3 linked regions of the Homo sapiens genome follow. The protein of the gene in region 2 purifies or fractionates together with the protein of the main gene of each other region. This does not show direct contact. Each region holds a gene or a part of one and is shown on either strand. Other genes may lie near its edges.

Evidence for each region.
Region 1: the proteins of CHST9 (region 2) and CANX purify together in Homo sapiens (affinity purification with mass spectrometry; 4 studies listed by BioGRID and IntAct, with this or other methods). This does not show direct contact.
Region 3: the proteins of CHST9 (region 2) and LRP6 purify together in Homo sapiens (affinity purification with mass spectrometry; 4 studies listed by BioGRID and IntAct, with this or other methods). This does not show direct contact.

The regions. Positions count from the first base shown.
Region 1 is NC_000005.10:179,715,900-179,719,554, forward strand, and holds part of CANX (calnexin isoform d precursor), read left to right. Parts: coding exon of another isoform or gene 1-101; intron 102-205; coding exon 206-395; intron 396-3,655. UniProt on the Homo sapiens protein: Calcium-binding protein that interacts with newly synthesized monoglucosylated glycoproteins in the endoplasmic reticulum. It may act in assisting protein assembly and/or in the retention within the ER of unassembled protein subunits.
Region 2 is NC_000018.10:26,905,947-26,909,429, reverse strand, and holds the end of CHST9 (carbohydrate sulfotransferase 9), read left to right. Parts: 3' UTR 1-2,949; downstream 2,950-3,483. UniProt on the Homo sapiens protein: Catalyzes the transfer of sulfate to position 4 of non-reducing N-acetylgalactosamine (GalNAc) residues in both N-glycans and O-glycans.
Region 3 is NC_000012.12:12,120,545-12,124,199, reverse strand, and holds part of LRP6 (low-density lipoprotein receptor-related protein 6 isoform b precursor), read left to right. Parts: intron 1-871; coding exon of another isoform or gene 872-921; exon of another isoform or gene 922-1,018; intron 1,019-1,594; coding exon of another isoform or gene 1,595-1,685; exon of another isoform or gene 1,686-1,708; intron 1,709-2,779; coding exon 2,780-3,074; 3' UTR 3,075-3,655. UniProt on the Homo sapiens protein: Component of the Wnt-Fzd-LRP5-LRP6 complex that triggers beta-catenin signaling through inducing aggregation of receptor-ligand complexes into ribosome-sized signalosomes.

The sequences.
Region 1 (3,655 bases), on a different chromosome or scaffold from region 2:
AAGCCGAGGGACTAATCATTTATGTTTCGTGCATAAGGAAATGGGCGTTAGCTTCCCCAAGACCCCAGGAGCCAGGCATTGTTCTTACCCCAAAGCCTCAGGTCAGACTTCTGCTGCTTCACGTTAGAAGTCATGATCTTTTGTATTATGGTAAAGGGAGCTTGGAAAATTAAGTACTTTTAATTCCATTTAATGTTTCTTTCAGTCTTGAATCCAGATAATAGTTTTGAAATACTGGTTGACCAATCTGTGGTGAATAGTGGAAATCTGCTCAATGACATGACTCCTCCTGTAAATCCTTCACGTGAAATTGAGGACCCAGAAGACCGGAAGCCCGAGGATTGGGATGAAAGACCAAAAATCCCAGATCCAGAAGCTGTCAAGCCAGATGACTGGTGAGTCTTGGGGAACTGTCTTCAAGTGTAAGGGAGCATTTCATATATTCCATGTGGCTTGAACAACGAAATGTTGGTTGAGTAAGCTCTGATAATTTCAGTAATCCATGATGCAGTCTAATCTGTAGGGAAAATATAGAGTACTATAGCTGGAAAGGGGCCATAGTGTAATCATCTGGATTGACTCACCATTTTACAAGCCACAGAATGCCACACTTGATAAGAGTTTGTCTGTGGTGACACTGTTGGTTTGTGGCAGAATCTCAGGTCCTTTAACCTGGCTACTCCAGGGCTTCTGTGAACTCACATTTAAAGCCAAAGTTCTGAAATGCTAAATTTTAATTTGAAAAATAACCTTTTTCCTATTTAAACAACAGTCAATTCTCTGCTGTGGGTTGGGTGGTAGAATACAAAGCCACAAGGACACCACCATCTGCCTACACAGAGCTTGAAGTCCAGTTGTGAGGCATGATGTTGGCATGTGGTATCGTAAGGGTTCATGAGAAGGTGCCACAGGAGACCAGAGCACCAGGTGTACCTAAACTAGGCATGGTTTCTTGGAGCAAGGCAAATCAGATTGAGACTTGGCAGTGAGGTGAGAATTAAGGAGTTGGTGAATATGGGAAGGGGTGTTTCTGATTGAAGAATGTCGTATGCAGAAGTAGAGGAGCAGCAATGAGCTTGACATGCGAGGGAGAAATTACATGGCCTTTTATGTAGGGTGCACATTGAAGAGTGAGGAGAAATGAAGATAGCTGGGGCTGTATTCTTGTATATGGCTGTCTTTGAACTTGCAACTTCACACAGTGACTCCAGAAATGTCAGAAAGTGAACAAAGAAATTCTTACCCTTTGTAAAATATCCTCCTATGCTTAGCAATTACATTCTAGATTATCTTTTTCCTCCTTGAAAGGTAAGATACATATAACTGAACTTTTGTACTGCACTAGTATAAATGCCAAGTTTACTTGTATATTTGGTGTATATTAGATTTGGACTTAGCCTTGTTCAGTATTATATTCCTTAACTAGCTTTATCACCTAAGAAGGCCCCTGTACCCATTAAGCGGCCACTCCCTGTTTCCTCCCCCAACTCCCAGCAACCACTAACCTGCTTTCTGCCTCTCTACATTTGTCCACTTTGTATATTTCATATAAAATGGAATCATACAGTATGTGGCTTTCTCTGTCCAGTTTCTTTCATTTAGCACAGTGTTTTCCAGGTTTATCTGTGTTGAAGCATGTATCAGTACTGCATTCCTTTTTATGATTGAATAAATTCTACTGTTTTGATAATGCCACATTTTATTTATCCATCCTTTGGTGGACATTTAGGTTGTTTGCTCCTTTTTGTCTGTGATTATGAATAATGCTGCTATGAATGTTCATGTACTGGTTTTTACATAAATATGTTTTTTCTTTTCTTGCTTTTTTTTTTTTGAGATGGAGTGTAGCTCTGTCGCCCAGGCTGGAGTGCAGTGGCGCCATCACGGCTCACTGCAACCTCTGTCTCCCGAGTTCAAGTGATTCTCCCGCCCTAGCCTCCCAAGTAGCTGGGATCACAAGCGCATGCCACCACACCCAGCTAATTTTTGTATTTTTAGTAGACACGGGGTTTTACCATGTTGGTCAGGCTGATCTCGATCTCCTGACCTCAGGTGATCTACCCGCCTCAGCCTCCCAAAGTGCTGGGATTGCAGGCGTGAGCCACCACACCTGGCCTCTTTTCTTTAGACATGATCTCTGTGTTGCCCAGGTGGGAGTACAGTGGTACGGTCACGGCTCACTGCAGCTTCCACTTTCTGGGGTCAAGCGATCCTCTCCCGCCTTAGCTTCTCAAGTAGCTGGGACTGCAGGTATGCACGCCTGGCTAATTTTTATGGGTTTTTTGTTTGTTTGTTGAGACAGAGTCTCGTTTTGTCACCCAGGCTGGAGTGCAGTGGCACGATCTCGTCTCATTGCAACCTCTGCCTCCCGGGTTCAAACGATTCTCGTGCCTCAGCATCCCAAGTAGCTGGGACTACAAGCGTGCACCACTGCACTCGTGCCTCACCCTCCAAGTAGCTGGGACTACAAGCGCGCACTACTACAAAAAATTCTTGTATTTTTAGTAGAGATGGGATTTCACCATGTTGGCCAGGATGGTCTCAAAATTCTGATGTCAAGTGATCTACCAGCCTCAGCCTCCCAAAGTGCTGGGATTACAGGCGTGTGCCACCGTGCCTGGCTGTGCATGTTTTTTCTTTTTTTTTGAGACGGAGCTTCGCTCTTGTCGCCCAGGCTGGAGTGTAGTGGCGTGATCTTGGCTCACCACAACCTCTGCCTCCCGGTTTCAAGTGATTCTCCTGCCTCAGCCTCCTGAGTAGCTGGGATTACAGGCATGTGCCACCACGCCCAGCTAATTTTGTATTTTTAGTAGAGATGGGGTTTCTCCATGTTGGTCAGGCTGGTCTCAAACTCCCGACCTCAGGTGATCTGCCCACCTTGGCCTCCCAAAGTGCTAGGATTACAGGCATGAGCCACTACACCTGGCTTAATTTTTGTATTTTTTGGTAGAGACAGGGTGTCGTCATATTGGTCAGGCCGGTCTTGAACTCCTGTCCTCAGGTGATCCACCCGCCTTGGCCTCCCAAAGTGCTGGGATTACAGGTGTGAGCCACCGCACCTGGCCTTGTGTATTTTTTTTTTTTTACTAGAGACTGGGTTTCACCTTGTTGCCCAGGCTGGTGTGGCCTCAAGTGATCCTCCTGCCTTGGCCTCCCAAAGTGCTGAGATTACAGGCATGAGCCACTCTGTCTAGCTATAGATATATATTTTCATTTCTCTTGGGTATATATACCTAAAAGTGGAATTGCTGGGTCATGTGGTAACTAACTTTTTGAGAAACTGCCAAACTGTTTTCCAAATGAGCAGTACCATTTTACTTTCCCACCAGCAGTGTATGAGGGTTTCAGTTTCTCTGCGTTCTTTCCAGCATTTGTTTTTATGAGTCTTTTTTATTAGAGCCAACTTGGTACTAAGTGGTATCGTTTTGATTTGCCATTTCCCTGATGGCTAATGATGTTAAGCATCTTTTCGTGTGCTTATTGTATGTTCATATTGTATATTTTTACATTCGTATGTCTTCTTTGGAGAAATGTCTATTAAAATCATTTGCCCATTTTTAAATTGGGTTGTCTTTATATTATTGAGTTGTAAAGAGTTATTTTACTAGGCCCTTAGCAGATATATGATTTACAAGTATTTTCTAAGAGGAATTAT
Region 2 (3,483 bases):
TTGTTAAAAACATATTCCCAGACCCCATCCAAGATACACAGAATTGGAATCTCTATGAAAACCACCTGAAAATTTCCTTTTTAATAATCTCTTGGGGTACTTCTCGTGTGTGTGTGAATTTTTTAAGTCCTGGTTGATTATAAATGATAATACAACCTGCTCTTTTCATTCTGTCACTGTGTTGAAAAGTTAACAACTCTCAGCTCAGAGAATTGTCAGTGGGTATTGGTACCAAAGTCCTCTGTGGGATTTTGACCAGCACTGAAGCAGAAACTTGGCGTCCGAAGTCTGCCAAGTGCAAGAACTAGAGCTGAAATGATGAAGTGAGGGACGGGGACAGCACTGGGCACTGCCCAAACTTTTTGAAAGCTTTCAGAATGAAATGGGGAAATGGAAACTTTCCTCTGTTTGAAATATAAAAGACAAATGTGTACTGAAGGCAATTTTGGCAACTCAACTTCACATTGAACAAGTGAAGACAATATGAGTTTCTCCAATAAAAACTAAAAAGCTGTTTTCAAATTGACCTAAGATGATTGAAAATGGAAAATATTTGCTATTTGGTTATTAGTTTGAGAGCAAGTGCCCCAGGAAATATTTTGCAATTTAACTTAAATGGTTATAATGTATATTTTCTTGAACTTCATTAAAGGATTTGTCTCTTTTTGCCTTTCTATTAGGTTGAACCATATGACATTGCCAACATTTGACTGACTCTGACATATAAACACAGCCCTTTCATGTGGGTCCACTAACAGTTCTGCTGCTACCTACCCAATTCTAACCACATTGGCTCTCCTCAGAACTATTGGAAATAGCCTCTGAATAGAAGTCCTGCCTTTTTTATTTATTTATTTAAAAATTACTTCTTTTCTCTTTGCATTTTTCTTCTTTTGATATTTTCAATTGTGGCAAAATCCACATAACATAAAATTTTATCACCTTATCATTTTTTGGTATCCTTTTAATGAATATTTTCCTATCCCTCCCCATCTTACCTATTTTTTTTTTTGAGACAGAGTTTCACTCTTGTCGCCCAGGCTGCAGTGCAGTGGCACCATCTCTGCTCACTGCAACCTCCACGTCCTGGGTTCAAGCTATTCTCCTGTCTCAGCCTCCCGAGTAGCTGGGACTACAGGTGCACAGCACCACGCCCAGCTAATTTTTGTATTTTTAGTAGAGATTGGGTTTCACCACATTGGCCAGGATGGTCTCGATCTCTTGACCTCGTGACCCATCCGCCACAGCCTCCCAAAGTGCTGGGATTACAGGCATGAGCCACCATGCCTTGCCACCATTTTTTAAGTGTACAGTTCAGCAGCATTTAGTGTAGTTGTGCAAGCATCACCACTATCCCATCACATACCTTCCTTCCTTGTGAAAAATGGATACTCTGCACCTATTAAACAACTTCACTTTTTGCCCTCCCCCAGTTCTGGCAACCATCATTCTACCTTTTGTCTCTATGAATTTGATAACTTAAAATACCTCATATAAATGGAATCATACAGCATGTGTCTTTTTGTGACTGGCGTATTTCTCTTAGCATAATGTCCTCAAGGTTCATCCATATTGAAGGACGTACCAGAATTTTTTTCTTTTCAAGGCTGAATTGTATTCCATTCTCATTGCCTGGCCTCAATCTCTCAAGACTATAACCCATTCCCAGCTTAATCACCTGATAGCTGCATCAAACCCACTATTATCCAGCCACATGGAACCATTACATTCTCTGAAAACACCTCTTGCTTTTTCCCCTATTTTGCTCACACTATTACACGACCTGAAGTGTCCTTTATTCCTCTTTAAGGACCTCCACATGGGTGCCCCCTCCAAGAGTTGCCTGCCCCGCATGACCATCCCACATTCAGCTCGCTCTACCCTCTCTGCTTGGGGACTCTCTTCCACTCTCCTTGCTTTAGCTCCACCATTAGGCTGATGGTTCCGAAATCTTTTTCTAGGCTATGTTTCTATCACGAACTTTGATTCAGATTCCCAGTTTCTTGTGGGACTGCTTCATCTAGATGTCTCACTGGAGCTTCCAACTCAACATGACCAAAGCTGAACTCATCACCTAACCCCCAAACCTGCTTTCTCCTTATTTGGTGGCAACACCATCCATCTACTCCATCTTCTGAGTTAGGAACCTAGAAGTCAACCCCGATTTCTCCCTAAGCTGACTCCTCACAGCCACAGAATTCAGAAAGCCCATTAACTTCACTGCCTGACTTTTTCTCAAGCTTCTCCTCTCCTCCCATCCATTCTGCTAATATCTAAGTTCAGACTCTCACCTTCTCCTGTCTACAACTCTACGATAATCTTGAACTTCTCTCCCACTCTCATTTCCCTCAATGCCATCCTCCATACAGCTGCCCTTGTAATCACTTTAAAATGCAAATCCAATTCCAGTTCTGTTTCCCACTATACATTCTATATCCTGCATGATCCCAATTCTTCTCCAGGCATATTTCTGGCCATTTTCTGCCTCCTGGCTTAATCTCCAACAGCCTAGAATGGACATAATACCCTAACATTGGATAGTTTTCTTCCTCCTGGGTCTACTCAGCTTGTCCCTCTATTAGGGCACCCACCTACCCCCCTTCACCTCCCCAACACTTCCTAATCCCTAAACTAAGCTCAGGGAGGCATTTGTCATCTCTGCCTGGCTCAGATGAGATGCTCTGCCCTGAGTACTATGAGAGATTGGGAAGCAGGATTCTATGTAGGATGGTTAGGAGCCTGGGGCTTGTCATGAGTAAGAACTGGGTTTGAATTCCGTATCCTCAACTTTCAAATGTTGGGACCTCTGAAATTGCTTTAACTTCTCTCAGTGCCAGTTTTCTCATCTGAAAACTGAGGATAGAATACCTACCTAGTAAGGGGGGTATGGGAAATGCATGTAAAGTATTTAATAAGTGCTCAATAAAATAAAACCATTGATTTATCTCATCATAGCCTGTGCATATTTCTATCTCTGTGCTTAAAGAATTCTAATGATTTATGTATGTGCCTTGCTTAGTAGAATCAATTCCTTGAAGTTAAAGTTTGTGTCTTGTTCATCCTTGTAACCCCAGAGAAGATACTATTTAAGTATTTGTTGAAGAAATGAATGCAGGAACAAATCCAGCACAGGTGTTCCTGCATTCATATGGCACTCTGTCTTTCCCTTAAGGTACATTCTGACTTGTATTATAATACTACAAAAATGTGTCTTATCTTTCCTGTCAGACTCTAAGTTATCTGAGGTCAGGAATCACATCTTACCCAATAAATGTACATACATCAAATTAAATTTGAGGCTTTCAAATGTGGATTCTCGAATTAATGGTTTAGAATAGCAGGCTTCCTAGCCAAACATAGAAACAAATAAGTAAACTAAAAATCACTTTGTTCAATCATCTTTAACCCTTTTCTTTCCATTAGTGCTACACCCTGACCATGATGAACTTTTGTCTCCTCAAATAAGCTATGCTTTTCTCTGCC
Region 3 (3,655 bases), on a different chromosome or scaffold from region 2:
GTTTCACCATGTTGGCCAGGCTGGTCTCGAACTCCTGATCTCAGGTGATCCGCCTGCCTTGGCCTCCCAAAGTGCTGGGATTACAGGTGTGAGCCACCACACCTGGCCTATACTTTTTTTTTTTTTTAAGAGAGTCACAAATGCTGGCTTTTATAATAATAAAATACAGCCTCAGGCTTTGGCAGTATTCTAAGGAGGAATTACCCACCAAAGTGACTGGTTTCAAAATAGTTTGATATTCTAAGAATGAAATATTGGGATAAGATTGGTTCATAGAATTGAGAGTTTAAAACAGCAACATACTCAGAGCACAGAATTTTAGAAAAGTTGAGAGAAATGTAAGTTCAGCCATTGCTTGCATATGCTATTACAATTTGGAGTGAAAGATTTCTCATGTAGTTGCATGGAATAAAGAAAGATTGAAATAAATAAAGTGTATTTGTAAGCCAAAAAAGAGAAAATTATTCCTTTTTGCTAATTTATGAGTCTATAAAGTGTGTTGAGCAGGTCAAGTACTGTTGTGTCAGCTTCCACTTCTATGTTCCTTGAAAGGCCAACAGACCATCAGTAGCTTGAGAGTTTCTATCTACACACTGAAGTGCCCAGGGTTCATGGGCATCCCTCAAGTGCCTGTTATCTTCTAGATAATCTTTTCTATCTTCTATCCTCTCTAGATAATCTTCTATTATCTTTCCTAGCATTTCAGTCAAATTGGCCTGATACGACCTCACCCATGTGTAGAAATGAAGTGGAAACCACTTAAAGTATCTCACTCAGAATTCTCATTTCAGCTTAGATAAGACTGAAATAGCCTTGGCTGTGAACTGATTGTTTTAATGATATGTTGTAATGTTGCTTTCCCTGCCACAAGTTTCTTCTTCTAGGAAGCCAAAACAGAAAAAGCAGAAGCCTGAAAATTGAGAAAGGAGAAAGATACAAAATTTTATTTTTTAAAAGTAATGTCCTTAATTCAAATTGACTAAGGCACTCATCAGAATAAACACGATTGCATAAAAAACTATTCTTGCTTAACTATTTTCCGTATAAGCCCAATTTCTGTTTCCTCTGAGTCAAAACTTACATCATTTGTTGAGATTTTGGTTTAAACTGGGACATGAAAAAATTTTATTAATTCAGTTTGTTTTCTTTTTTTTTTTTCATGAAAATAGAAGTATTTGGACTTTTAAATGTTGACCTTAGAAATTTCACCAAGGATTGACACCTGATTGGACAAAGAGTTAAACAAAACAAACTGTGACATCATGTCAGTATTGATAGTAAAAGCCTTTGAGAACTCACTCAGTGGGTCATATAACTTTTGGTCTCTGGCAGCCTTGCACCCTTTTTATTTTTATTTTTATTTTTTTTGAGACAGGGTCTTGCTCTGTCACCCAGGCTGGAGTGCAGGGGCACAATCACAGCTTACTGCAGTCTCCACCTCCCGGGCTCAAGCAGTCCTCCTGCTTCAGCCACCCAAGTAGCTGGGACTACAGGTGTGTGTCACCACGCCTGGCTAGCTTTTTTTTATTTTTTGTAGAGACGGGGTCTTGCTATGGTGCCCAGGCTGGTTTCTTTCTTTCTTTCTTTTTTAAAGACTAATCAAATGCAGTAGTAAGAAGGGGAGACAGAGTAGAACAAGGAATTTGATCTGTGACTGTGAACAATCTGGCAGCCATTTCTTTTGAAGCAAGCCAAGTGATATCAAATGGTTTGTATCCTGGGTTCCTGGGATATATTACCTGGTGGTGCTCTGTATCACTAGGTGTTTTATGAATCGTTGTATCAGTTTTTAACTTGGTTTTCCCCTTCTCTTGTAGTCACTTTGATGAGAAAGCTTATGAAAAAATCTTTGGGATAAATTTAAGATCAGCTTTACCATATTTAGAATAAACAGGTATAAGAAGTTAAAAATAGAAGTAGGAATGACAGAAAAGCCAGAACTTAGGTCAGATCTTATTTTCACTAGTATGTTTCTCTCTTTCCAATGCCTTTTTCTTTAGTTAGCAGTGCTACAAACCTAACAACTGTATGTCACTTGTAAAGATAAACAAGTGTAAGAAATAAACTAGGCCTCTGAAATATACATTAGAAAATTCACTGACCCTTTATGGGCATTTAAATTTTATCATTTTGATGTTTAAAGCTGCTCTTATGAGAGGTACTTACCTATACACAGGGAATGAAAACCGTTTCCCCCAATCACAGCAATTTCCCTTTGCTAAGATAACAACAATGGAATAGTTATGCCCCTGAGGCTGTCTACCAAAATCCAGCCTGGACTGTACAGAAATTGTACAGAATTGTACAGAAGAAAGAAATGAAGACTTCAGATGTCATTAAATTAATTATTCATCAGGTTAATTTTGGAGTAAAGAATGTTGAGGGAATGCTGACATGTTTGAGTAGTGTAAAATATGTAAAAACCCATTCTTCCCATGGGCTATGAAACTGCAGAACAAATTTGAATAGTCATTTTTTATTCTGTGATACAGTTTAACTTGAAGATGTAAGAGCACAACCAGAGGCTAGATTGAATTCACCTCTGCATTCCCATCCTGTTCATTTTCACTTGCCACTTTCTTATTTGCAAATAAGAAAGTACCTGCTATTTTCCTCAGCGAATCTGCCATTGAAAATTGCCTCTTGGTCTGTGTAAATTTAAATTGCAGTAGCTTATTGTTTTCATAGGGTAGTTGACATCTAATACCTCTATTCTGAGAGGGGAAATCATTTTTTTTTGTAAAACTAACTGCTTCTCTTTATTTTCTCCCTATACCAGCTACAGGCCATATAGCTACCGGCACTTTGCACCCCCCACCACACCCTGCAGCACAGATGTTTGTGACAGTGACTATGCTCCTAGTCGGAGAATGACCTCAGTGGCAACAGCCAAGGGCTATACCAGTGACTTGAACTATGATTCAGAACCTGTGCCCCCACCTCCCACACCCCGAAGCCAATACTTGTCAGCAGAGGAGAACTATGAAAGCTGCCCACCTTCTCCATACACAGAGAGGAGCTATTCTCATCACCTCTACCCACCGCCACCCTCTCCCTGTACAGACTCCTCCTGAGGAGGGGCCCTCCTCCTCTGACTGCCTCCAACGTAAAAATGTAAATATAAATTTGGTTGAGATCTGGAGGGGGGGAGGGAGCTATTAGAGAAGGATGAGGCAGACCATGTACAGTTAAAATTATAAAATGGGGTAGGGAATACTGGAGATATTTGTACAGAAGAAAAGGATATTTATATATTTTCTTAAAACAGCAGATTTGCTGCTTGTGCCATAAAAGTTTGTATAAAAAAAATTTGTACTAAAAGTTTTATTTTTGCAAACTAAATACACAAAGCATGCCTTAAACCCAGTGAAGCAACTGAGTACAAAGGAAACAGGAATAATAAAGGCATCACTGACCAGGAATATCTGGGCTTTATTGATACCAAAAATAAAAAAGAGGAAGAAGAAAAATTAAGTCCATCTCAGAGCAGCAAACCATAGATACATGGATGTAGCCAGATAGCCTTCAGTTAACTAACATTTGAGGGCCAACAAGTAAGAAATGATGAAAGGAAAAAAATGCAATTAATACTAACCTTGGACGAAGGGCTTTGTTTTCTCTAGGAATCCAACAGTGCTAGTGAGGAAAGTAGATA